Linked DNA regions of Homo sapiens. The protein of the gene in region 2 binds, or shares a complex with, the protein of the main gene of each other region. Links are inferred from orthologs where the notes say so. Each region holds a gene or a part of one and is shown on either strand. Other genes may lie near its edges. The genes, in order: KHDC3L, TLE6, NLRP5 and OOEP.

What was found.
Region 1: TLE6 (region 2) and KHDC3L share a complex: the UniProt entries of both Homo sapiens proteins name them as parts of the subcortical maternal complex.
Region 3: the proteins of TLE6 (region 2) and NLRP5 are in contact, whole or in part, in a cryo-EM structure (PDB 8H94), measured with the Mus musculus proteins. The link is inferred for Homo sapiens from one-to-one orthologs. Residues at the interface, in NP_444484.1 of Mus musculus: Pro147, Gln148, Pro149, Val150, Cys158, Gln159, Phe161, Leu162, Ile163, Gly165, Leu166, Trp167, Leu169, Phe170, Ser173, Arg174, Gln175, Lys176, Asn177, Ala247, Asp248, Lys249, Phe250, Lys252, Pro253, Ser255, Trp256, Leu261, Glu262, Cys265; in NP_035990.1 of Mus musculus: Gln185, Phe188, His283, Arg307, Glu326, Lys327, Lys329, Ser330, Ser334, Pro335, Leu336, Met444, Ala447, Glu448, Trp451, Tyr465, Tyr507, Tyr508, Glu511, Glu515, Asn517, Phe520, Phe522, Leu540, Met543, Lys544, Leu547, Val571, Lys574, Leu575.
Region 4: the proteins of TLE6 (region 2) and OOEP are in contact, whole or in part, in a cryo-EM structure (PDB 8H94), measured with the Mus musculus proteins. The link is inferred for Homo sapiens from one-to-one orthologs. Residues at the interface, in NP_444484.1 of Mus musculus: Trp256, Ser258, Phe304, Thr305, Arg306, His307, Val318, Asn320, Val322, Asn323, Glu332, Ser333, Asn354, Ser355, Arg356, Leu373, Ala374, Ala375, Pro376, Ser377, Leu378; in NP_080756.1 of Mus musculus: Arg32, Pro33, Trp34, Trp35, Pro37, Gln39, Glu40, Glu67, Trp70, Met71, Gln73, Gln94, Pro95.

The regions. Positions count from the first base shown.
Region 1 is NC_000006.12:73,358,424-73,364,697, forward strand, and holds KHDC3L (KH domain-containing protein 3), read left to right. Parts: upstream 1-4,234; 5' UTR 4,235-4,306; coding exon 4,307-4,475; intron 4,476-4,671; coding exon 4,672-4,851; intron 4,852-5,132; coding exon 5,133-5,437; 3' UTR 5,438-5,748; downstream 5,749-6,274. UniProt on the Homo sapiens protein: Component of the subcortical maternal complex (SCMC), a multiprotein complex that plays a key role in early embryonic development.
Region 2 is NC_000019.10:2,973,426-2,980,585, forward strand, and holds the start of TLE6 (transducin-like enhancer protein 6), read left to right. Parts: upstream 1-4,138; 5' UTR 4,139-4,185; exon of another isoform or gene 4,186-4,194; intron 4,195-4,772; 5' UTR 4,773-4,808; coding exon 4,809-4,859; intron 4,860-6,674; coding exon 6,675-6,757; exon of another isoform or gene 6,758-6,982; intron 6,983-7,160. UniProt on the Homo sapiens protein: Component of the subcortical maternal complex (SCMC), a multiprotein complex that plays a key role in early embryonic development.
Region 3 is NC_000019.10:55,989,764-55,996,789, reverse strand, and holds part of NLRP5 (NACHT, LRR and PYD domains-containing protein 5), read right to left. Parts: intron 1-7,026. UniProt on the Homo sapiens protein: Component of the subcortical maternal complex (SCMC), a multiprotein complex that plays a key role in early embryonic development.
Region 4 is NC_000006.12:73,368,029-73,374,689, forward strand, and holds OOEP (oocyte-expressed protein homolog), read right to left. Parts: upstream 1,870-6,661; 5' UTR 1,765-1,869; coding exon 1,575-1,764; intron 1,358-1,574; coding exon 1,178-1,357; intron 836-1,177; coding exon 756-835; 3' UTR 527-755; downstream 1-526. UniProt on the Homo sapiens protein: Component of the subcortical maternal complex (SCMC), a multiprotein complex that plays a key role in early embryonic development.

The DNA.
Region 1 (6,274 bases), on a different chromosome or scaffold from region 2:
ATGTTAAAGATCACTTCTGCTGTAGGTCTGGGTTGCAGCAAGTGTCTTAGAGGACATCTGGCCATTGCATGGGCTCTGCTTGCCACCCATCGGTACTTGCATTTCCAAATAATGACTTTTTAGAAAGGTGGAACACTTAAAAGCATATGCATTGCTTTTAAAAGCATATGCATTGCTTTTATCCAAAATTAATGTCAATGTTTATCATATTATAATGTTAGCAACAAGGCTGGTGAGTATATAGGTTGGTTCGACCTCGGAGGGATGCCATTTGGCAATACCTTATCAATTGGAAATTTACAGATCCTTTGACTCAGCAATTCTACATTTGAAATTTCATCCTATAGTTATACTCCCCCTTGTAAGAAATGACATGTAGAAGGATACTGATTTCAATAGCATTACTAGCACAAGTAAAAGATACCATACAAGGTAAATATTCACGAAGATTGGGAAAAAATACATATTAAAGAAATAAGGCTGGGTTCCGTGGCTCATGCCTGTAATCCCAACACTTTGGGAGGCTAAGGTGGGAGAATCGCTTGAGCCCAGGAGTTCGAGACCATCCTGGGCATATAGTGGCCATGTTGCAGGCACTGAGACATGATGAAACCCCATCTCTATTAAAAATACAAAAATTAGCTGGGCTTGGTGGCGGATGCCTGTAATCCCAGCTACTCGGGAGGCTGAGGCATGAGAATCGCTTGAACCCAGGAGGTGGAGGTTGCAGTGAGCCGATATTGCACCACTGCACTCCGGCCTGTTGACACAGCGAGACTCCATCTCAAAAAAAAAAAGACAAAAACAAAAACAAAAAAAGACCAGCCTGTCCTAAAAAAAAAAATTAAAACAAATTAGTTGTGATGGCACATGCCCGTGATCTTAGCTACTTAGGAAGCTGAGGTGGGAAGATCACTTGAACCCAGAAGTTGGAGGCTGCTGTGAACTATGATGGGTCACTGCACGCTAGCCTGGGTGACGGAGTGAGATGCTGTCTCATCAAAAATAAATAAATAAATAAATCCATTATCAATATCTAGAAAAACAAAACTTTGTCAAGAAAAGAAATCATAGTATATACAACTATGAATAGTTTACAAAGTCGTAATAGTGCGAACACTGAATATTGATCTAACAAAATCATATCTCTGTTTTAAGATGATCTAGGTCTGATGCACATAGTTAAGTCCCAGCTTACCTGGGTTGGAAGAGGGTGAAAGATAGTGGTAGATATATAAATCCTAGCCTCCCAAAGTACTAGGATTACAGGCTTGAGCCACCGTGCCCCGTCGTTTTTTGTTTTTTTTTTTTTTGTTTGTGTGTGTGTGTTTTCTTTTTTCTTTTTCTTTTTCTTTTTTTGTTGAGAGGGAGTCTCGCACCGTCGCCCAGGATGGAGTGCAATGGCGCAGTCTGGGCACATCGCAACCTCCGCCTCCCAGGTTCAAGCGATTCTCCTGCCTCAGCCTGTCGAGTACCTGGGATTACAGGCGCCAGCCACCACGGCCAGCTAATTTTTGTGTTGTTAGTAGAAAGGGATTTCGCCATGTTAGTCAGGCTGCTCTCAAACTCCTGACCTCGTGATCCGCCTACCTCGGCCTCCCAAAGTGCTGGGATTATAGGTGTGAGCCACTGTGCCCGGACTTCTACGTCGTTTTTTGACATTTTTTATTTCTTTTTTTTTTTTTTCCGAGACAGAGTCTTGCTCTGTCCTCCAGGCTGGAGTGCAATGGCACGATCTTGGCTCACTGCAACCTCTGCCTCCCGGGTTCAAGCAATTCTCCTGCCTCAGTCTCCCGAGTAGCTGGGATTACAGGCCCCTGCCACCACATCTCGCTAATTTTTGTATTTTTAGTAGAGATGGGGTTTCACCATGTTGGCCAGGCTGGTCTTGAACTCCTAACCTCAGGTGATACGCCCGCCTTGGCCTCCCAAATTGCTGGGATTACATGTGTAAGCCACCACGCCCGGCCTGTTTTTTGACTTTTTTTTTTTTTTTTGAGACGGAGTCTCACTCTGTCACCCAGGCTGGCGAGCAGTGGCTCAATCTCAGCTCACTGCAACCTCCACCCTCTAAGTTCAAGCAATTCTCCCGCCTCAGTCTCCCAAGTAGCTGGGATTACAGGCACCTGCCACTGCGCCCGGCTAATTTTTGTATTTTTAGTACAGATGGGGTTTCACCATGTTGGCCAGGCTGGTCTTTAACTCCTGACCTTGTGATCCACCCGTCTCAGCCTCCCAAAGTGCTGGGATTACAGGCATGAGCCACCATGCCCGCCCTGTTTTTTGAGTTTTTAATAAAAGTCATTGTGACTGGTGTATGATGGTATATCGGTGTGATTTTAATTTGCATTCCTCTTCTGATTAGTGATGCGGAGCATTTTTTCATGTGTTTGTAGGCTGCCTGTATTTCTTCTTTTGAGAAATATCTCTTCATGCTCCTTGCCCAGTTTTGTTTGTTTGTTTTGTGGAGACAGTCTCGCTCTATCCAGCAGGCTGCAGTTCAGTAGCCTGATATCGGCTCATTGCAACCTCCGCCTCAGGAGTTCAAGCGATTCTCATGCCTCAGCTTCCTGAGTAGCTGGGATTACAGGTGCCCGTCACCATGCCCGGCTAATTTTTGTATTTTTAATAGAGACAGGATTTCGCCATGTTGGCCAGGCTGGTCTAGAACTCCTGGCGTGAGCCACTGTGCCCGGCTTTGCCCCATTTTTAATGGTTTTTTTTTTTCTTGTTGTTTTGCAAAGTACTTTAATCATCTCAATTAGCAAGTAAGAATTTCCCAACTACTAAATCATTCCTACATATGAAATATATTCAGCCGGTTGGGCATGGTCTGAATATATACATTCGGCCTATTAATGTGGCAAACCTGAAGTTCTCTTCAGTGTTTCAATACTGAATAAAAATAAATTATAAATTATAATTTGTCTTATAGCAACACATCTAAAACAGTTATTATTATTATTATTTTTGAGACAGGGTCTCACTCTGTCACCCAGGGGGGAGTGCAGAGGCACCATCACTGCTTACTGTAGACTCAGCCTCTCTGGGATCAAGGGATTGTCCCACCTCAGCCTTCCGAGTAGCTGGGACTACAGGTGCGTGCCACCTAGTCCAGCTAATTTTTGTATTTTTTGTAGGGATAGGGTTTTATCATTTTGCCCAGGCCAGAAGGATTGCTTGAGACCAGCTTGGGCAACATAACGAACCCTTGTCAGAAAGGGAAGGGGAAAAGAAAGGAAAGGAAAAGGGAAAGGAAAAAAGAAAGGAAGGAAGAAAGAGACAAATATAATTGTGTTATTTAGAGAACAGAGGCATCACTGGGCATGGTGTCGGGAGCTTGTAGTCCCAGCTACTGGGGGAGCTGAGGAGGGAGGATCTCTTGAGCCCAGGAGATGGAGGCTGCAGTGAGCTATAATCACACCACCGCCCCCTAGCCTGGGTGACACAGAGAGACCCTGCAGCAAATTTTAAAAATTAAAAATAAAAAAGAGAATAGAGATGTCAAAAATTTTCAAGGAATCTCATCTTGTGTCCAAACCACGAGAACTATCTGTGGTTAGGTGTGTTCATGGCTGCATTAATTAAAAGCGTGCTATAGTCCCACTACTGGGGAGGCTAAAGAGGGAGGATTTTTTTGAGCCCTGGAGTTCGAAGCCAACCTGGGCAACATAGCCAGGCCCCATAACTTTTTTTCTATCCATTTTTTTTTTTTACTATGCAAATCTCACTACACAGACCCTATAACAGAAAAAAAAAAGAAAAAGAAAGAAAAAAGGCGGGCGCTTATTCTGCTCTGTACTCAGCAGTCTCAGGCAAGTGACAGAATAATCTGAAAACCTGGTCCAGAGGGAGGAAACGTAGTGGCCAGGGATCAGAAGCGCGTGAGGGACCTATGAAGTATTCATTCTGCAAGTATTAGTTCTTTCCTCTGGGAGAGATACTGGGCTTGCCCACGCCTTCCTGAGTCCATGGTTAAGACTCCCGCTGGGCACCAGCGGATTCCTGGTGCCCAGAGCCCGGTTCCTCCTACCGGGTGCGCTGGGAAAAGGGCTGCTCCTGACAGAAGGGACACTCTAAGAGCAGCCCAGGAACCGGTGCACTTGGGCGGCCTCGGAAGAAGCCGGGGCTCCTGGAGGCGGAGGCGAGGCCTGGGACCCAATAAGAAGGGCGCGGCTAGAGAGGAGGGGCTGGCCAAAAGCCCTTGAAATAAGGCCCAGGCAGAACCGCGGTTCTAGTCTCCCAGCTCCAGCTCGGCCTTTGGGTTTGCTGTGGTGTCCTTGTCTCCTGCAGGACCGGCCGCAGCATGGACGCTCCCAGGCGGTTTCCGACGCTCGTGCAACTGATGCAGCCAAAAGCAATGCCAGTGGAGGTGCTCGGTCACCTCCCTAAGCGGTTCTCCTGGTTCCACTCTGAGTTCCTGAAGAATCCGAAGGTAGTTCGCCTTGAGGTTTGGCTGGTGGAAAAGATCTTCGGTGAGTGGACCAAGAAGGGGCAGCCCCCATGCGGCTTCTTTCTGCCACCCATACCCACAGCCCACATATTCTGGCTGCGTTCCAGGGCGATCCTCACCAGTAGCCAATGCCCTCTGGCTGTCTCCTCCTTCCACCTTCCCCTCCCAAGACCCCCGGGAGCCACCGGTCCCTCACAGCCTCTCTGCTACCCGCGCAGGCCGGGGCGGAGAACGCATCCCGCACGTCCAGGGTATGTCCCAAATCTTGATTCACGTGAATCGATTGGACCCTAACGGCGAGGCTGAGATCTTGGTATTTGGGAGGCCTTCTTACCAGGAGGACACAATCAAGATGATCATGAACCTGGCTGACTATCACCGCCAGCTCCAGGCGAAAGGTACGGGGCTGGGAATAGGGCTACCTGGAGCAAACCCTGGCTCCGTAGGAGTGATCCTGGGGTTTCCTGGCTGCTGGGGCGGCAGTCTCGCCCTCCCAGTCGGCCTGCGGTTGGTGGGTGGGGGAGGGGGCGGTTCTCGCTGCCACGGATCCAGAAGGCCAAATTGAACCCTCGTTCTGGGATTTCTGGCTCCTACTCCCGCAGGCCGCTTGGGTGACTGTCCTTTTTTGGAGAGGATATAGAGACACAGCTGTGGCCTCTGCACACTGCTCTTCTTCCAGGCTCAGGAAAGGCCCTCGCCCAGGATGTCGCCACTCAGAAGGCCGAGACCCAGCGGTCTTCAATAGAAGTCCGGGAGGCCGGGACGCAGCGTTCGGTGGAGGTCCGGGAGGCCGGGACCCAGCGTTCGGTGGAAGTCCAGGAGGTCGGGACACAGGGTTCTCCGGTGGAGGTGCAGGAGGCCGGGACCCAGCAGTCTCTCCAGGCTGCCAACAAGTCGGGGACCCAGCGATCCCCCGAAGCTGCCAGCAAGGCAGTGACCCAGCGGTTTCGCGAGGATGCCCGGGACCCAGTTACTAGATTATGAAGGCATCTCAGGCCCTGGAGCCAGAGCCAGTCAGGGGTTAAAGTGAAAGCCCGTATTTCCGCCCAGAAGCTGGGGTTGGGGAGAGGATGTGGATTTTTTGTTTTACCCTTTCTGTTGCATGGTTGCAAACACAAACTTGAGTTCTAATAAAGAATTGCAAAGTGGAAGCCCGCCCCCCGCCTCCCCCCCGCCTCACTTAAGTCCAGGAAGCTGGGGTGGCGAGGAAGGATGATGTGGATTGTTTTTGTTTTACACCTTCTGTTGAATGGTTGCCAACACAAACTTGAGTTCTAATAAATAATTGCATTTCCCTAACGTCTGTATTTTGGAAGGTAGAGGGGAGGGAAAGGCGCATTCCTCCAACAGCCCAGTTCTGCCCTGCGCAGCCCTCTACCTCGAGGCAGGTGGGGCCTGTGGTTCCTAGCCGCCCGAGGTGGCCATCTTCCCCGGCTGTGGTCCGGTGTGCCCCTTGTACTCCTTAACCGCGCGCATCTGGCTTTAACAGGTGAGAAGCCTCTCTGGCCCACTAGGAAATCTCTCCAAGCCCGCTGTCGTTCTACTCAAGGTGACTTGGGATGAGAAAACTGGGTCGCTTGGGGGCCAGCTGGATTTGGAAGGCCCTGGGTGTATTGCTACTCTGTCACAGAACACTTTCTCAGCTGGGGAAAATGACATCGGGGAAGGGGGAAACGAAGAGACCCGAGCTGCACTCTTGGGCTGCACTGTTGCAGTCTTCAGGTCTTGCTTGGGTCACCCACCTTCCACGAAGGTCGTGGACACCAGCAAGATACAGGCATCGGCTACTCTTTCCTCAGTTACTATGGCAGCGAGAAGCCC
Region 2 (7,160 bases):
CATGCGGGCAGGGTGCCTGAGGAATGGAATTTTAAATTGTATTTCATTTTAATTAATTTTAACTTAAATAGCCACATGTGCTTACTGGATACCCTGTGAGACAACCCTGTGAGTCTTGGATAAAGCAACGTGCCCAGCTGAAAGTCTACAATCAGAGGGAGGGGAAAAAGCAAAGCCCATATTAGGAGGCTGGACCATAAATAAAACACACTTTAATTATGCAGCTGGGTGCAGTGGCTCACGCCTGTAATCCCAGCACTTTAGGAGGCCGAGATGAGTGGATCACTTGAGGTCAGGAGTTTGAGACCATCCTGGCCAACATGGTGAAACTCCATCTCTACTAAAAATACAACATTAGCTGGAGGTGGTGTGGTGGCGGGCGCCTGTCATCCAAGCTACTCAGGAGGCTGAGGTAGAAGAATCGCTTGAACCCAGGAGGCAAAGGTTGCAGTGAGCCAAGATCGTGCCACTGCACTCCAGCCTGGGCGACAGAGCAAGACTCTGTCACAAAAAAATAATAATAATAGCCAGGCGTGGTGGCTCACACCTGTAATCCCAGCACTTTGGGAGACCAAGGCAGGTGGATCACAAGATCAGGAGTTTGAGACCGATCCGGCCAATATGGTGAAACTCCATCTCTATTAAAAATACAAAAATTAGGCGGGTGTGGTGGCGGGCGCCTGTAGTCCCAGCTACTTGGGAGGCTGAGGCAGGAGAATCGCTTGAACCTGGGAGGTGGAGGATGCAGTGAGACAAGATCGCGCCACTGCACTCCAGCCTGAGGGACAGAGAGAGACTCTGTCTCAAAAAAATAAGTAATAAAAATTAAAAAATAATAATTATGGGACAGTGGAGGGTTCGTGGGTGGGAAGCTTTTCTGCAGGTCTTTCATGACGGCCCCTCCCTTTGTTCTCCATGGACCAGCTGCAAAACCCAAGTCACGTGTGCACATCACCACCTCTGGGGGCTACTTGTCCCAGCATTGAAACCCTCAGTTCCCCGCAGCGAGAGAGCACAGAACAGAAAACAGGGAAGAGTTTCTCTGGCTGGGTTTGGATCTGAAGTCAGCAGACCTATCGGGCATTTGTGTCACATGGGGAGGTCAGAGGATGGGAGGCGTCTCTGTAGGAGAATCCTGACAGCATTCTCTGCATTTAGAACATGCAGGGCTTAGAGCTATCGTGGGAGGCTCCCGCCACAGGAGCCACTGAGATTACAAGATTAGCTGCAATCCAAACCACATTCGGAAAAAAATAAAATAAGAAAGGGAGATACAGGCCCGGTGGCGGCACAGTGGCTCATGCCTGTAATCCATAGTACTTTGGGAGGTGGAGGTGGGAGGATCACTTGGGGTCAGGAGTTCAAGACCAGCCGGGGCAATGTACTGAGACTCCCCTCCCCCTCGCCCTGTGTTTAAAAAAAAAAAGAGGAAATAAAGGGAAATATAGGGAAGGGAAGGGAGGGTTGGGAGGTCTCTTCAATGAGATCCTTCCTTCCTTCCTTCCTTCCCTCCCTCCCTCCCTTCTTTTTTTTTTTTTGAGATGGAGTTTCACTCTTGTTGCCCAGGCTAGAGTGCAATGGCACGATCCTGGCTGACTGCAACCTCCACCTCCCGGGTTCAAGCGATTCTCCTGCATCAGCCTCCCAAGTAGCTGGGATTACAGGCGTCTGCCACCACACTCAGCTGACCTTTGTATTTTTAGTAGAGATGGGGTTTTGCCATGTTGGCCAGGCTGGTCATGAACTCTTTTCTTCTTTTGAGGCAGAGTACTCTGTCGCCCAGGGTGGAGTGCAATGGCGACATCTTGGCTCATTGCAACCTCTGCCTCCCAGGTTCAAGTAGCTGGGATTACAGATGTGCATCACCGTGCCCGGCTGATTTTTGTATTTTTAGTAGAGGTAGGGTTTCAGCATGTTGGCCAGGCTGGTCTGGAACTCCTGACCTCAAGTGATCTCCTGCTTCGGCCTCTCAAAGTGCTGGAATTACAGGCGTGAGCCACCACGCCTGGCCTGATGTGGTGATTTTTTTTTTTTTTTTCTGAGACAGAGTCTTGCTGTGTCACCCTGGCTGAAGTGCAGTGGCACAATCTCGACTCACTGCAACCTCCGCCTCCCAGGTTCAAGTGATTCTTCTGCCTAAGCCTCCAGAGTAGCTGGGACTACAGGTGCCTATCACCATGCCTGGCTAATTTTTGTATTTTAGTAGAGCTGGGGTTTTCTTTTTTTTTTTTTTTTTTTGAGACAGAGTCTTGTTCTGTCGCCCAGTCTGGAGTGCAGTGGCGCAATCTTGGCTCACTGCAAGCTCCGCCTCCCGGGTTCACGCCATTCTCCCGCCTCAGCCTCCTCAGTAGCTGGGATTACAGGCACCCACCGCCACGCCCGGCTAATTTTTTTGTATTTTTTATTAGAGATGGGGTTTCACCGTGTTAGCCAGGATGGTCTCGATCTCCTGACCTCGTGATCCACCCGCCTCGGCCTCCCAAAGTTCTGGGATTACAGGTGTGACCCGGCCAAGCTGGGGTTTCACCATGTTGGCCAGGCTGGTCTCGAACCCCTGACCTCAGATGATCCACCCACCTCTGCCTCCCAAAGTGCTGGGATTACAGGCGTGCACCACAGCACCTGGCCCAACGTGGTGATTTCTAAGTAGGGAGCTGAGGGAGTAAGGAGCCAGCCGGTGGCTGTCTGAGAGAGACTGTCCCTGGCAGAGTGAACTGCTAATGCCAGTACCAGGTCCTGGGCCAAACAGAAAGAAACGGGCTCTCACTCCAGAACTGCAGCTTGACCACTATATATATAATATATATACTTTATATATATTATAGCTATATATTTTTTTGAGATGGAGTCTTGCTCTGTTGCTCAGACTGGAGTGCAGTGGCACGATCATAGCTCACTCCAGACTCAACCTCCTGGGCTTACGCCATCCTCCTGCCTCAGCCTCCCCAGTAGCTGAGACTACAGGTGCATGACCACCACACTTGGCTAATTTTTAAATTTTTTGTAGAGACGCGGTGTCACTGTGTTGCCCAGGCTGGTCTCCAACTCCTGGCCTCAAGCAATCCTCCCACCTCAGCCTTCCAAAATGCTGGGATCACAGGTGTGAGCCATGGTGACTTGGCTTCATATTTTGAATAGGCCAAAACAAAACTCCGAAATCCCCTTACTCCTATCCCCACGACCCCACACAGCAGGTTTCTCTCGCTCTGCAGCAACCCACTTACCTCTCGGAAATCATCCCAGGCCTGTTCGGAGTGCACGCAGCCCCGTTAGCCTCCCTGGCTGCTCCTGTAACCAGCCCAGCTCTGCCTGAGAGGTTCCGCTATTCCCTCCGTCTGGAATACCCACCACTCTCTCCCACCCCGCGCTTGCATCCGGCAATACTGTATCAGCCTCAGGGCCTCTGCTGTCCCGCTTTCTGCTCTCAGAGCCTTTGTCACTGGGCTGGAAGAGCAGTTGGGAAAATTCGGTGATAAATGCATAGCCCGGGGCTGGGACCATCAAGGGGACCCAGTAAGTTGGCTCCAGAAAGAGGACTTGAAGCTTCGTTTGCATTGCACGTTATTTAATATTGAGGAAAATGTAATTAGCCCGTATCTAAGAATTGGGGTGACAGCGCTAAAGATTGAACCCACCCACCTCCCACTCCTCACCTCCAGCCATAAGCCACTTCCGGACAAGGCTAAAAATGCGTAAAACAATGCAACTACTCGCCACCTATCCCTGCCCAAGTTCCAGCCTCTGAGCCTCAAGCCCCACGCCCTCCTAAATATCCCCGCCCCCGCTGGGACCCCAAATTGCCTATAGCTCTGCAAGTCCGCCCTTCCCGGCAGCGGGACCGAAAGGGTAAAGCAGAGGCTCCCGGCTCGCTGAGTGACAGCATGGCCGGCGGCCGGGGAGAGCCGACCAATCAGGGAGGGCGTACGCGACCCACGTGCGTAAACGGCCTCGCTATTGGCCGGCGCCGCCAGAGGCCTGCCCCCCCCGGAGCCCGAACCCACGTGCAGCTACTGCGCCTTCATTGATCTGCTTCGCGGTCCAGGTGGCGGCTGGGTGGGGCCTGGGCGGGACGGGGCGGGGACAAGGCGGGACGAGGCGGGGCCCGATGGGTCAAATGGCCCCCGGTGGGGGAAGGAGGAGTTTCCTCTTGGCCTGAACTTGGCTGACCTCCGCAGCTTCCGCCCGGTGAGGGACGTGAGTTGCCAGGCGTGTTCTAGGGGGCTGGGGGGACTCCAGGATTCCCGGCCGGGGAAGGGGCTGCAGGGGCGTGGAGGGGCAGGACTGAGGCAAGGAAGAAGCTGGGTGCTGCAGCAGGGATGGAGGTGGAGAGAGGTCGTTTCTTCTGTCTGATGAATTCCGCCTAATGCACCTGGCTAACTCCTAGTCATCCTTCAAAACCCCTTTCTAGTGATCTCCCTGCGCTTTAGGAAATTGTCTCAAAACTAAGGTTGAGCTTTGGCGACCTTCCCTGGGCTCCCCCGTCCCTGACTGCCCCCAGCAGGGAGTGTATGTGCACTATCCACCCCAGCCTCCTAGGGTGAGGCCTGGGAGGCAAGGCTCAGTTCTTTCTGGGTCCCCGCCCCCATGAATCTGGGCAGCTGGAGGCATTGATAAGTGAGGACAGGACCTAGGGAACGCATGGGAGAACCGCAGGATTGGGTCCCTGGAGACTTACCAAACTGGGAGGTGCGGGTGGGGTAACGGGTGCCTTGCTTCCCTGGCACTGCCTTATTTTCTGTCCCTCAAGACCTGCCGTCTCCTTGTTGTTTTAGACTCTGGCTAAAGTCTTGGAGGCTACTGCCTTGAAGATGACCTCTAGGGACCAGCCCAGACCCAAGGGCCCCCCGAAAAGCACTTCGGTGAGGAGGGCATGTGGTGGGATCAGCCCTCAAGGGAAACCCGGGCCCAATGTGGTTCTGCCCCTTTTCCACCTGTGACCTGGGCTGGCCCCGCCCAGGCCTCGCAGCTGAAGACAATACTGGTCGCTGCTACACTCAAGACAGGTGCCAAGGAGCCGTGTTTTTTAAAAAAAATTAAGTGTAGGCTGGACACTGTGGCTCACAACTGTAATCTCAACATTTTTGGAGGCCGAGGCAGGAGGACCACTTGAGCCCAGGAGTTTGAAACCAGCCTGGACAACGTAGTGAGACCCTGTCTCTGTAAAAAATAAAACTAGAAGAATCAGCTGGGCCTAGTGACGTGGGCCTGTAGTTGCAGCTACTTGGGAGGCTGAGGCAGAGGGTTGGCTTGAGCCCAAGGAGTTTGAGGCTGCAGTGAACTATGATGGTGCCACTGCACTCCATCCTTGGTGACAGTGAGATCCCATCTAAAAAAAAATGTAGCATCTAATCACATATGTGATAAAAACACAGGAACACATCATGTATTTGGTTGATGTTTTACAAGCAATCCCCGCTCCCTGCACTTTGCGTCCCAGAGATGACCATTTGTAAATTTAGGCTCTCAGGGCTGAGCAGACGTTTTTTTTTGTAAAGGAGTCAGATGAGGGATATTTTGTTTTGAGACTTTATGATTTTATTATGTTTGAGACGGAGTCTCACACTCACCTCGGCTGGAATGCAATGGCGCAATCTCAGCTCACTGCAACCTCTGCCTCCCGGGTTCAAGTGATTCTCCTGCCTCGCCTCCCGAGTAGCTGGGACTACAAGCACCTGCCACCATGACCACCAAATTTTTCTTGTATTTTTAGTAGAGACTGGGTTTCACCATGTTGGCCAGGCTGGTCTCGAGCTCCTGACCTCGTGATCTGCCTGCCTCAGCCTCCCAAAGTGCTGGGGTTATAGGTGTGAGCCACCACACTTGGCCAAGAGACTTTATTTTATTGAGTCTTGCTCTTGTTGCCCAGGCTGGAGTGCAGTGGCGCGATCTCGGCTCACTGCAACCTCCACCTCCCAGGTTCAAGTGATTCTCCTGCCTCAGCCTCCCGAGTAGCTGGGATTACAGGTGCGCGCCACCACGCCCGGCTAATTTTTGTATTTTCAGTAGAGACGGGGTTTTGCTGAGTTGCCCAGGGTTGTCTCAAACTCCTGACCTCAGGTGTTCTGCTCACCTCGGCCTCCCAAAGTGCTGGGATTACAGGCATGAGCCACCTTGCCCGGACTTTTATTTTTAAAAATATTTTGTGCTTCTATTTTCATCACAAGAATGTGGTGAACATTTTAGACTTTAGGCCAAAGTGCAAAATGGAAGATGCTCTTTACTGAAATAAGAGAGGCCGGGCGCGGTGGTTCATGCCTGTCATTCCAGCACTTTAGGAGGCCGAGGCGGGTAGATCATGAGGTCAGGAGGTTGAGACCAGCCTGGCCAAGATGGTGAAACCCCATCTCTACTAAAAATACAAAAATAAGCCAGGTGTGTTGCCGGGGGCGGGCGGGGGAGGGGGGCGCGGGCGCATGTAATCCCAGCTACTCGGGAGGCTGAGGCAGGAGAATCGCTTGAACCCGGGAGGCAGAGTTTGCAGTGAGCTGAGATTGTGCCACTGCACTCCAGCCTGGGCGACAGAGCAAGACTCGGTTTCCAAAAAAAAAAAAAAAAGCAAAAACCACAATTACTTTTGCACCAACCTAATGCCTATGCCATGTTGAGGTGGAGACCGGGGGTCTTGGGTGTTGGAGCATTGTAAGTTTTATGTAACCTTGCTTTGACCTTTCCAGCCTTGTCCTGGGATCTCGAACTCTGAGAGCTCTCCGACGCTGAATTATCAGGGCATTCTAAATCGGCTCAAGCAGTTCCCCAGGTGAGAGCAATTCCAGGGGCCGGAGGTCTCACGCTGGGAAGGAGCCCCACCTGGCCTCTCTCCCGGGGGTCCTAGTGAGTGGTCTAGAGGCTGCTGGCCCAAGAGCCAGGCTCAGGAACAGGAAGCCATGCAGATACCCAGCATGGAGAACCCGGCAATACCCATCCCAGCTTTTGATTAAACAAAATTACCAACAAATATTAAAATTTTGATTTTCCTGTTCGACATGGATTTGTTGGCATTCAATTTTATTGTTGAAAAATACTGCAACGGCTGGGTATGGTGGCTCGCACCTGTAATCCCAGCACTTTGGGAGGCGGAGGCGGGCGGATTGCTTGAGGTCAGGAGATCAAGATCAGCCTGGCCAACATGGTGAAACCGCGTCTCTACAAAAAATACAAAA
Region 3 (7,026 bases), about 53 Mb from region 2:
ATTGTGGCACTATTCACAATAGCAAAGACTTGGAACCAACCCAAATGTCCATCAGTGATAGACTGGATTAAGAAAATGTGGTACATATACACCATGGAATACTATGCAGCCATAAACAAGGATGATTTCATGTCCTTGTAGGGACATGGATGAAGCTGGAAATCATCATTCTGAGCAAACTATCGCAAGGACGAAAAACCAAACACCACATGTTCTCACTCATAGGTGGGAACTGAACAATGAGAACACTTGAACACAGGAAGGGGAACGTCACACACCGGGGACTGTTGTGGGGGAGGGAGCATTAGGAGATATACCTAATGTAAATGATGAGTTAATGGGTGCAGCACACCAACAGGGCACATGTATACATATGTAACAAACCTGCACGTTGTGCACATGTACCCTAGAACTTAAAGTATAAAAGAAAAGATGAACAAAGAAAAAAAAATTCAACATCCCTTTATGATAAGACGCAGAAGAAACATAACTCAGAACAATAAAGGCCATGTATGACAAACCCACAGCTAGCATTATACTGAATGTGGAAAAGAAGAAAGCCTTTTCCCTAAGAACTGGCACACAGGGTGCCCACTTCCGCCACTCCTATTTAACACAGTACTGGAAGTCTTAGCCAGAGCAATTAGGGAAGAAAAAGAAACAAAGGGCATCAAAATTGGAGAAGAAGTAGATTGTTCATGTTTGCAGGCAATATAATCTTTCATTTAGAAAAGCCTACAGACCCCACCAAAAGACAGAGAACTGATAAAGGAATTCAGTAAAGTTGCAGAATCAACATACAAAAATGTTGATTTTTGGATAAATTTTTCAGTATGATGCAAGTTTTTATATAATAAATGAACTCAGTATGATGCAAAAATCAACATAAAAACAGTAGCATTTCTAAACACCAATAATGAACTAGCTGAAAAAGAAAGCAATGTCCTTTATAATAGCTACAAAAATGTACCTAGAAATAAATTTAACTAAGGAGGTAAGAAATATCTATAGTAAAACCCACAGAATACTGAAAAAAATTGAAGAGGATAGATAAAAATGGAGACATCTAACGTTCACTGATTAGAAGAATGTTGTTAAAATGGCCATCCTACCCAAAACAATCTACAGATTCAATGCAATCCCTATCAAAACACCAACGACATTCTTCACAGAAATAGAAAAACAATCCTAATATTTGTATAGAACCACAAAAGATCCCAAGTAGCCCAAACAATTTTGAGCAAAAAGAAAGCTGGAGGCATATTACCTGACTTCACAAAGCTATAGTAACCAAAACAGCATGGCACTGTCATGAAAACAGACATAGACCAACAGAATAGATAATTCAGAAATCCATATATTTATAGCCAACTCTTTCTTTTTTAATGTATTTTTCAGGACTTGTTAGAATATTTTAATATTTAAGTTTTTTTAATACTTTAAGTTCTAGGGTACATGTGCACAACGTGCAGGTTTGTTACACAGGTATACATGTGCCATGTTGGTTTGCTGCACCCATGAACTCATCGTTTGCATTAGGTATTTCTCCTAATGCTATCCCTCCCCCAGCCCCACACCCTAGGACAGGCCCCAGTGTGTGATGTTCCCCACCCTGTGTCCAAGTGTTCTCATTGTTCAATTCCCACCTATGAGTGAGAACATGTGGTGTTTGGTTTTCTGTCCTTGCGATAGTTTGCTCAGAATGATAGTTTCCAGCTTCATCCATGTCCCTACAAAGAGCATGAACTCATCCAACTCATTTTCAAAGGCACCAAGATTAGGGAAAGTACACTGTGTTCACTAGGTGGTACTGCGAAAACGGGATAACCATATGCAGAATTAAACTAGACCCCTGTCTCTCACCATATATAAAAATCAACTCAAGATAAAGTACTTAAACATAAGACTTGAAATAATAAAACTACCAGAAGAAAACATAGGGAAAGCTCTTCTGAATACAAGTCAAGGCAAATATTTTGCGGCTAAGACTTCAAAAGGACAGGCAACAAAAGCAAAAATAGACCAATAGGAGTACATCCAACTAAAGAGCTTCTGTACAGCAAAGGAAATAGTCCAAGAGTAAAGAGACAACCTGGCTGGGCACAGTGGCTCAGGCCTGTAACTCCAGCACTTTGGGAGGCCAAGGCAGGTGGATCATGAGGTCAGGAGATCGAGACCATCCTGGCCAACATGGTGAAACTCCATCTCTACTAGAAATACAAAAATTAGCTGGGTGTGGTGGCACGTGCCTGAAATCCCAGCTACTGGGGAGGCTGAGGCAGGAGAATCGCTTGAACTAGGGAGTTGGAGGTTACAGTGAGCTGAGATGGTGCCACTGCACTCCAGCCTGGTGACAGAACAAGACTCTGTCCCCCCTCCCAAAAAAACCCCGCAGAATGGGAGAAAATATTTGCAAAATAATGATCTGGCAAGGAACTAATACCCAGAATATATGAGGAACTCAAACAACTGTATAGCAAAACTCCAAGTAATCCATTTAAGAAGTGGGTAAAAACCTGAACAGACATTTCTCAAAAGACATCCAAATGACCAACAGATACGAAAAAAGATTCAACATTACTCATCATCGCAATCTCACTGTGGTTTTGATTTGCATTTCCCTCTAGTTGGAATGGCTACTATCAAAAAAGACGAAAAATAAATGCTGGCAAGGATGCAGAGAAAGAAACTCCTTTCCACTGTCAGTGGAAATGTAAATTAGCACAGCCATTATGGAAAACAGTGTAGCAGTGTCTCAAAGAACTGAAAATAGATTAATACCCTATGATCCAGCGATCTGGTGATTTACCCGAAGTATATCAAAGGTATGTCTGCACTCTCATGTTTACCACCCCACTATTCACGATAGCTAAGATATGTAATCTACCTAACTGTCCATCAACAAATGAATCAAGAAAACGTGGTATACACACACAAGGGAACATGTTTCAGCCTTCAAAAAATCCTGCCATTTGTGACAACACAGATGAGCCTGTAGCTCTTCATGTGAGCTACAGCCTGTAGTTCATTGTGTGAAGCAAAATAAACCAGGCATGGGAAACTAAATACTGAATGTATTTTACTCATATGTGGGAGTTAAATTGAGCAAATGGGACTATGGAAGTAGGGGATGTAATTGTGGGTATTAGAGGATAGGGGAGAGGAGGGAGAGGGGAGAGGGGAGGTTGAGAGGAGGAGGGGGGAGGAGAGGAGGGGAGAGGAGGGGGAGGGGGAGGGGGAGGGGGAGGGGAGGGGGGGAGGGGAGGGGGGAGGGGAGGGGGGAGAGGAGGGGAGGGGGGAGAGGGGGAGGGAGGGGGGAGAGAGGGGGGAGAGAGGGGGGAGAGGAGGGGGAGAGGAGGGGGAGAGGAGGGGGAGAGGAGGGGGAGAGGAGGGGGAGAGGAGGGGGAGAGGAGGGGGAGAGTATGGCTCATGGGTGCTAAGATTACAGGTAGAAGGGAGAAATGGGTGCAGGTGTTCTGCAGCACTGCAGGTGAATATGGTGAACTATAACTTATTGTCCACTCTCAAAAAGCTAGAAGGGAGGACAGAGTGTTCACAACACAAATGTTTGGGGTGATGAATATGCTAAGTCCCCTGATTTGATCATGATACATTGTATACAGGTATCAAAATATCACTCGGGCCGGGCGCAGTGGCTCACACCTGTAATCCCAGCACTTTGGGAGGCCGAGGTGGGTGGATCACCTGAGGTCGGGAGTTCAAGACCAGCCTGACCAACATGGAGAAACCCCATCTCTACTAAAAATACAAAATTAGCCAGGCATGGTGGCAGGTGCCCGTAATCCCAGCTACTCAAGAGGCTGAGGCAGGAGAATCGCTTGAACCTGGGAGGCAGAGGTTGCAGTGAGCCAAGATTGCACCATTGCACTCCAGCCTGGGCAACAAGAGCGAAAATTCATTTCAAAAAAAAAAAGTCTCCATAAATATGTACAGTTATGTGTCAACTAAAATAAAGGAAAAACTGCAGCAAATGTATCTATTTTTGACAAAGATCAGGGGTCAGCAAATCTCCCAGAAGGAGCCAGGCATTTTTGGCTTTGGGGCCATTTGCTCTCTGCCACCCGTGCTTAGCTGCTCCTGCACTGGGAAAGTAGCTGTAGACAATTTGTCAACAAAGGAGAAAAGCTGTGTTCCAATAAATCTTTATTTACAAAACTGGGCAATGGGCTGGATTTGACACAAGCCCTACAGAGAATCCCATAAGAATGTTACGTGTCATTATTAAAAAGTCAAAAAACCGACGCTGCTGAGGTTGCAGGAAAAAATGGAAAGCTTATACACTGTTGGTGGGAGTGTAAATCAGTTCAGCTATTGTGGAAAGCAGGGTGGAGATTCCTCAAAGAGCTAAAAGCAGTAGCGTTGGACCCAGCCATCCCATCACTGGGTATATACACTAAGAGGAATATAAAGCATTCTCCCATAAAGATACATGCATGCAAATGTTCACCGTGGCACTGTTTACAATAGAAAAGACATGGAGTCAACCTAAATGCCCATCAAGGACAGACTGGATAAAGAAAATGTGGTACACGTACACCATGGAATACTATGCAGCCATAAAAAAGAATGAGATCATGTCTTTTGTGGGAACATGGATGGAACTGGGGGCCATCATCCTAAGCAAACTAAGACAGGAACAGAAAACCAACTACCACATGTTCTCACTTATAAATGGGAGCTAAATAAGAACACATGGACACAAAGAGGGGAACCACAGATACTGGGGTCTACCTGAGGGTGGAGGGTGGGAGGAGGGTGAGAAGCAGAAAGAAATAACGACTGGGTACTGGGCTTAATAACCTGGGTGAGGAAATAGTATGTATAACAAACCCCCATGACACAAGTTTACCTACGTAACAAACCTTCACATGTACCCCCAAAACTAAAAAGTAAAAAAAGAATGTTAGCTGTCAGCACTTCCGTTCAGTTTTGTACTCTCTCCCTATTCTTTATATCTGATATTCCACTATTATTTATATTTACCTAATTTATATTTGATAGGAAAGCAATCAGATAAAGAGGAGGTATAAAAGTGGAAAAAGGTGAAAATTAACATCTGTATGTAGGTATGTATGCCTAATAAATTACTCAATTTTAAATTATATGTAGTTATTAAATTGGGCTGGTAACAAATGTAACGATGAAATCCCACACAAAATCTAATAACCAGTTAAACGTGAGATCAAATGAACAGCAACTATAGAGGTAAAACATGCATAATTTAGAAAAGTGGCTATCTGTTTTGAGAGCTTTAAAATGCGGCTGCTAGATAAAAGGCTCAATGTGGTGAGGCAGAGGCAGATTCCCAACACATCAGTCATCCTCCATCAGTATAATATCATCCAAGAAGTACTGCTGATATTGTTATCAGGACAAGAAACTCAATGTTTCTATGAAAAGCCAAAACTAGACAAGAAAATTCTAAGAAGAATGATATTCACTCTGTTGATGTCTAGGCTGCACTTTAACATCTACGATAGAAGGTCACCATTTCCGGGGGCTAAATTTTGAAATATTTATGTTCATGAATTCCTACTTTACATTTAGCCCCCAAATAATGAGCAAATGGAATAGAAGGTCTCAATCGAATGGTATAAAAGAGACAAGATGACAGATTAATTCAATACAGTACCCTCCTCACTCCAGAAAAACAAACAAATCTTTAAAGTCCCGCTGAAAAAACTGCTGCAAATAAATTTGAGACATGACAAAGAATGCATTACGTAAACAGCTCTTCCAATCCATGATAATGATCAACAGCTCAGCGGAATTTTTTTTTTCTTTGAGATGGAGTTTTGCTTTTGTTGCCCAGGCTAGAGTACAGTGATATGATCTCAGTTCACTGCAATCTCCGTCTCCTGGGTTCAAGTGATTCTCCTGCCTCAACCTCCCCAGTAGCTGGGATTACAGACACCCTCAACCATGCCCAGCTTTTTTTCTTTTTGAGACAGAGTCTTGCTCCGTCGCCCAGGCTGGAATGCAGTGGCACCATCTCGGCTCACTGCCAGCTCCGCCTCCCGGGTTCCTGCCATTCTCCTGCCTCAGCCTCCCGAGTAGCTGGGACTACAGGCGCCCACCACCATGCCCGGCTAATTTTTGTATTTTTAGTAGAGACGGGGTTTCACCGTGTTAGCCAGGATGGTCTCGATCTCCTGACCTCATGATCCACCCGCCTGGGCCTCCCAAAGTGCTGGGATTACAGGCATGAGCCACCGTGCCCGGCCTAATTTTTGTATTTTTAGTAGACAGGGTATTTCGCCATGTTAGTCAGGCTGGTCTCAAACCCCTGACCTCAAATGATCCACCTGCCTCGGCCTCCCCAAGTGCTGGGATTATAGGCATGAGCCACTGTGCCCAGCCTATTAGAAGGATTTTGAAGAGTTAAAAAACTGCATATGACTTTTGTAATCCCAGCACTTTGGGATCCTGAGGCAGGTGGATCACCTGAGGTCAGGAGTTCGAGACTAGCCTGGTCAACATGGTGAAACCGCATCTCTACTAAAAATACACAAATTAGCCGGGCATCGTGGCGTGTGCCTGTAGTCCCAGCTACTCGGGAGGCTGAGGCAGGAGAATCGCTTGAACCCGGGAGGCAGAGGTTGCAGTGAGCTGAGATCTCACCATTGCACTCCAGCCTGGGCATAGAGTAAGACACTGTCTCAAAAAAAAAAAAAAAAAAAAAAAAAAAAGAAAAAAGAAAAAAAAGAAACGGCATGACTTTTAAATGTACTTTAAAAAAAAGTTATTACTGATAAGGTAAATAGCCAAAATGATGTACTACGTTTGACATGTGAGGCTGACAATGTCCACAATGTGTGACTGGACGCTGCTTTGTGATGGGTGAAGGAAAAGGTGCTCCTACATTAGTGAAGTGTAAATGGGTGCCATCTTTTTGGACGGTACTTTAACAATCTTTATCCGTTTTAAATGCAATTAGACCCAGCCGTGTGTAAAACAGCAAGACTGAAGACCATTTAGGAGTCGATTAAAAACAGGTGGGTTAAT
Region 4 (6,661 bases), on a different chromosome or scaffold from region 2:
TCCGTGGTAAATCGAAAACTACCATTAATGAACGCTGACCGCCCAGGCTTGCTTCTTGCAACGTCATCCTCTGCCCAATGGATGCCCCACTCCAGGAAAACGCACAGCTGGTGCTCTTCGGGGGATCAATTACCAGCTTCAAAGTGAGAGCCTCAGATAAGCTGCTTTAGTAGTATGTGTGAGCTCATCAGAAATGAAATTTTAAGCCCCACCCCAAAAGTACTGAATCAGAATTCTCTGGAGAAGGAGCCAAGGAAATTGTGTTTTAACAAGCTCCCAAGGTGATTTCTTACAAGCTTTAAAGTTTGAGGACCAATTATGTAAAAACAAAACAGATCACCATTTGTGAGGTTATCTGCCCCTGCATATCCGCTCCCTGTGGGTGAGGGCCTCTCTCTGACCAGAAAATCATAAAAGGATTAGGAGTTTCAAAATGATGGGAATTCAGGAAAAAAAAACAAAAACAAAAACCTACAAAACTATCACCTGCCCACCCTTCATATCAAAACATGAGTGGGAGTCAATCTTTTATAAATTTGCTTTATTATAAGTGTGTGAAGATCTTAATGCTTTTGGCAAAATAGCCATTTCTTTATTAGAATAGTTCAAACTCACTCTTGCAACAAAATAAACCACAATCCATCAAGACACAGGAAAAAGGAATACGGGGATTTAAGAATGCTATACTTGCTTTTCTTCAACTTTAGCAGCAAAAGTTAGAAAGTTAAGATGTTCCCAACAGTAACTATGTTGTCTTAAGCAACAGGATCCTGGGGAGAGTGGGGGTCTGATGCATGGGCCTTCAAGTTCTTCTCAAGGTGTTTCATCTTCTCAGCTGGAAGAGAAGCAGTTGATACTAACCATGGACAGGGACAAGTGTTTGCTGTTTCGAACTACTCCGTGACTGGGAGTTGGGGAGGAGAGAAAGATCTGCGATAGTGCTGTAACCCAGGTGAGGCTGACTTGGGCAGTGATGGGTCTGAATCTATCAGATCTCTGCTGACTTTCCCAAGGTCCTACCCCAGGATCCCCTCCCAACAAACTTCGTACAGCTAGCTCCCTGGGGTCTGGAAACCAAGAAATTTTGAGAAGGTTAAGGGAGGATGGAAGGAAACCGAGCAAGGCCAGTATGGTCACTCGTGGCTTCCTCCACATGCAGGTTCTCAAAGACCCTCACCTCGGGCACGATGTTCTCGGTGAAACCATGCCAGGCACAGGAGCATGCTCTTCACCCGATTCTGTACACGGGGCCGCCCGAAAACGGTGATTTCGACTAGGTTCCCTGAGTCCACTATGTCCACTGTCAGCAGGGCCTGGCTCGTCCACTCCATTTCTGGAATTATGGCTCGGTCTGGGCCTAAACAAGTAAGGAAAAACTCTGAGGGGCTGCACGGTGGCAGGTTAGAAGCTGGATTTGAAGGGAATGTTGGCCAGGGAAGGGAAGAACTGGAAGGTGGGCATCACTGCAACACTCCTGGCTTGCGAATCTGGGAAAGAGACTGTAGAGAGCTGCTCTGCCAAGCCTCTCTCAGACTGGAGGTGGACAGCCCACTAGCACACCTGGGGTCGCTCACCAAAGAGCTCGTCTGCCAGCCATGCCTCTAGGTAGAACACCAAAGGGTCTCTCAGTTCCTGCACCGGAAACCACCAGGGCCGGATGCGAATCTGTGGCGGCGGAAGTGGTAACCTACGCAGCTGCTCCAGGGAGTGGGCCGGAGTCTGTTTGCCCCGCTGGGACTCAGCGGCACCAGCATCATCGACCATACTGGGACCAGCAGCCGCGGAGCGCGCTCGAGGCGGCTTTCGCAAGACCTCTTCCAGACCCAGGCGCGAAGCTCGGGCTCTCTTTTACCATATTCGACCCGCTCCGCCCCTTCCGGCGGCGCCTCGCACCGCGTCGGGGTGAGCGGGTGCAAGCGACGCCCCGGCATAGCGGCACCATTGGACACTTCCTGCGCTGCTTCAATCGCCGGGATTGCCTCTTTGACCTTGAACTAGTATTCATTTGGCCTCCTGTTGGGTCTCCAATGCTCTCCTTCGTCATCTCTGCTCGTAAGGTATGCTTAGCCTGAAAGTCCTCTGCCCACCTTATAGCTGATTAACAGTGTGAGTTTGAATTGACGACTCTATTAATAGACTGGGAATCACCTTTGCTGGCTAGGTTAAGGTTTCATCGTTGCCTCCCAAAGATAGGTATATCGGACCCAGGGCAGGCTTGTTCAATGTGTCAGTTTTCTCTGTTCTGCTCCCTGTTGTTATCTTCTGACTCTCCGGATGGTTACCATTTTTAAATCATTCAAGCAAGTGTGTCATGTTTTAAACAACACGTCAGAGGTGGTCTTATAGAACATGTAGCAAGTTAGACAATTTTCCTTTATTTCCAGTATCCTAAGACAACCATTATCGATGGACATTTTTTCCCAATGTTTGTAATTTTAATTAAAAATTTGGATTATGAAAGGTTTCACACATCCAAAAAAGTAATATAACACGGCCATGTACCCTCCCCGAGTTTAACAGATGTTGACATTTCCCCACATTTGCCTCACTCCTCTGTTTTTAAAACAGATATTACTCAAGCATCTTTCCTTTCCTTCTCCAGAGGAAATCATCCTGAAGCTAGTGTGTATATATCATCCCCATGCATGTCCTTACACATTTTCTACTATATTTGTAGAAATATTGTTTGGTTGTTTCAGAATAGTATCTGCTGAATATACTATTTCGTTCTTACAATTAACTATGTGTTTGTTTTAAAACTTCTATTTTTCTGAGATAGGTCTCACTCTCTTGCCTAGGCTGGAATGCAGTGGCACGATCTCGGTTCACTGAAGCCTCGACCTCCCAGGCCTAAGCGACCCTCCCATCTCAGCCTCCTGAGTAGCTGAGACCACAGGCACCTGCCACCACACCCAGCTATTTTCCAGCTCTTTTTGTTGTTGTTGTTGTTTGTCTGTTTGTAGAGACAGGGTCCCACTATGTTGCCAGGCTGGTTTTGAACTCCTAGGCTCAAGCAGTCCTCTCACTTTGGCCTCCCAAAGTGCTGGGATTACAGGCGTGAGCCACCACAGCCAGCATAGAAGAAAAAACTCAAAATAGTGAAAAGCATGTTCCAGACTCCACATGATCATCTAGGACTGTGTGGAGGTTCCAGTTTTCTGCCCCTGATCCCACCCCCTCTCACCCTCAATGGTTTCTGAGAAAACTTGACTATCAGGTGTGCAGGGCATACTTACAGGAAAACAAGATTTAGCTATGGCTCTGATGCAATAAACATTTAAAACCTTAACCTGGCCAGGCAAGGTGGCTCATGCCTATAATCCCAGCACTTCGGGAGGCCAAGGCAGGAGGATCACTTGAGGTCAGGAGTTTGAGACCAGCCTGACCAACATGGAGAAAACCGGTCTCTACTAAAAATACAAAAATTAGATGGGTGTGGGCCAGACACGGTCACTCATGCCTGTAATCCCAGCACTTTGGGAGGCTGAGGCGGGCAGATCACCTGAGGTCGGGAGTTCGAGACCAGCCTGACCAACATGGAGAAACCTAGTCTGTACTAAAAATACAAAAGATTAGCCGGACATGGTGGTGCATGCCTATAATCCCAGCTACTCAGGAGGCTGAGGCAGGAGAATCACTTGAACCCAGGAGGCGGAGGTTGTCGTGAGCCAAGATCACACCATTGCACTCCAGCCTGGACAACAAGAGCAAAACTCTGTCTCAAAAATAAAAAAAAATAAAAATAAAAAAATTTGGCCAGTGTGTGGTGGTTACCTGCAATCCCAGCTACTCGAAAGGATGAGGCAGGAGAATTGCTTGAACCCCAGAGGCAGAGGTTGCAGTGAGCCAAAATGGCACCACTACACTCCAGCCTGGGCTACAGAGTGAGACTCCATCTCAAAAAACAAACAAAAACCCCTTAACCTAATCAAGGCCAGATATTGTGGCTCGTGCCTGTAATCCCAGCCCTTTAGGAGGTGGAGGCTAGCAGATCGCTTAAGCCAAGGGGTTTGAGGGTGCAGTGAGCCATGATCACACCACTGCACTCCTGCTTGGGTGACAGAGCGAGACCCTAAAAATAAACCTAAAAAAATTAAAGCCTTAATCTAATCATGAGACGCACTTACATTACTGTAGACAAAGAATATTTTACCCAGCATGTATAGAATTTTAACAGCTTCTTTAGGGGGACTGTGGTGATCTGAGCCACACAGGAATAAGTTAACTTCTCTCAAATTCCACTTCCTGGTGTGGAAAAGATGGCACCCCATTATCTTGTGGGGATCTTCTGCCATAAACCCCACATAAATCCCCAGCATGCTGGACACCGTGAAGCAGTTAGTCTCAGATACAACTCAGTCTCAGGTGTAGCCCAACAGTGGCTAGTTCAGTTATTTCTTCCTCAAGGAAGAAATGATCCTGTGGGATTACTGCTCTCCCCTGAGGAAAGAACCTCCCTGCTCAGTGAGAGGCCAGAATCTGATTCGCAAGTGTTGGTTTCGCATCTCTCAGCTTTGGGGAGACCGATAGGCCTTTGCACCTGAGCCTGCCAAAACAGGAGGGCTATTGTGCAAGAAAACCTTTTGGGAGCTCAGTCAGTCACGTGGGCCTCCTTGGAAGCCTGGGGACAAGTGGGCAGTTTTCCCGAGTGCATGGAAGCCAACACCAGAGACTGAGGTGGAGAGATGCACTGAGCCAACTTGGCTGGGTTAATAGAACACTTTTCCCGCCATCTGGGTTAGCTTCTTGGGGTGCCAGGGATCCTGCAGTGGGCCTGACGCCAGCCCGAGATCAAAATGGGAAAGCGGCCAGAGCAAACTGACGTTTCACAGAGCTCTTAAGGGCCGGAAGATTCTTTCTCACCTTCTCTTTTTCTTTCCTTTTTTTTTTTTTTTTTTTTAAAAACGAAAGGCCTCACATATTTATTACTGAATCCAGCCAACCAACGTGTTCATAACAGATTCAGAGAGGAAAACACGTCGAAATCTCCAGATAGTGGTGACATTTTCAGCTTGATATGGTAACATGATCGTGACCTTCAGACAGCATAAATATGTGTGCCATCTCATGTGCAATTCCTTATAGACCCAGCTTGGTTCTTCTCCAATGTCTCCTTTTGGAGTTGTACCTGATTTTATTTCCAGTTTTCATCCGAATCCACTGGGGAATGGGACGATTTTGCTTTTGTTTCTTGGCCAGGAATCGCTTAATCCTGAAAGTCTTGTGAGAAGACATGGCGAGCAGCGGAGTCAAGAACACACCACGATGGCGGAGAAAGGAAGAGGGCTCCTTCTCTTCTTTTGTTTTCTTTTTTGAGACAGGGTCTCACTCTGTCACCCAGGCTAGAGTGCAGTGGCACGATCTCAGCTCACTGGGTAGCTGAGGCAGGTGCATGCCATCACACCCACTGTAGAGACAGAGGTCTCCCTATGTTGCCCAGGCTGGTCTCGAACTCCTGGGCTCAAGCAGTCCTCCTGCCTTGGCCTCCCAAAATGTTGGACTACAGGCATGAGCCACTGCAACTGGCCAGGGCCAGAAGATTTTAAGTATGCAATTATTTTTTATTTATTTATTTATTTAGAGACGGAGTTTTGCTCTTTTGCTCAGGCTGGAGTGCAATGGCGAATCTTGGCTCACTGCAACCTCCGCCTCCTGGGTTCAAGTGATTCTCCTGCCTAGGCCTCCCAAGTAGCTGGGATTACAGGCATGCACCACCACACCCAGCTAATTTTGTATTTTTACTAGAGGTGGAGTTTCACCATGTTGTCCAGGCTGGTCTCGAACTCCTGACCTCAGGTGATCTACCCACCTCGGCCTCCCAAAGTGCTGAGATTATAGCCTTGAGCCACTGCGCTTTGCCAAAAATATATTTTTTAAATATATTTTTAAAATATATATACATGCCTGTAATCCCATCACTGGGAGGCTGAGGCGGGAGGATCACTTGAGCTTAGGAGTTTGAGACCACCCTGGGCAACATAGAGAGGACCTGTCTCTACAAAAAATAAAATAATTAGCTGGTTGTGGTGACATGCGCCTGTAGTCCCAGCTACTCGGGAAGCTGAGGAAGGATAGCCTGAGTGCACAAGGTCGAGGCTGCAGTGAGCTATGATTGCACCACTGCACTCTAGCCTGGGTGACAGAGACCCCATCTCTAAAAAAATAAAATAAAGATAACGTACAATTTTATGTATTTTTTTAATGGAGGAAAGGGGCTCCATTAAAAGTACCTGGAGTCTATGAAAGTCGTAATGCCTGGCTGCCTTCATCCAGTGATGTGGAACCCCAGAGGCCCCAGTATGACTAGGCCCTTTCCAGGACCCACTCCCATGTGTTTGCCCAGCTTTCCACTTCTGTGGTACAGAGCCAATCAGATCTACAGGACCAAAACTTGAAGCCAATCCCAATCCTACCAGCAACAAATGATGATGGTTGCAGAGATGGTAAAGAAGGCTTAGATTCCAGGCCTGCCCCCAGCCCTGAAATTGTAGTCAAACACATACTTCTCCTTTCACCTTACCTTCTCTGTATATTTGCCTGTGTGATCATAGTCTGGAGTTTTTTGTTTTTGTTTTTTGAGATGTGGTTTCACCATATTGTCCAAGCTGGTCTGGAACTCCTAGGCTCCAGCAACCCTCCTGCCTTGGTCTCCCAAAGTGCT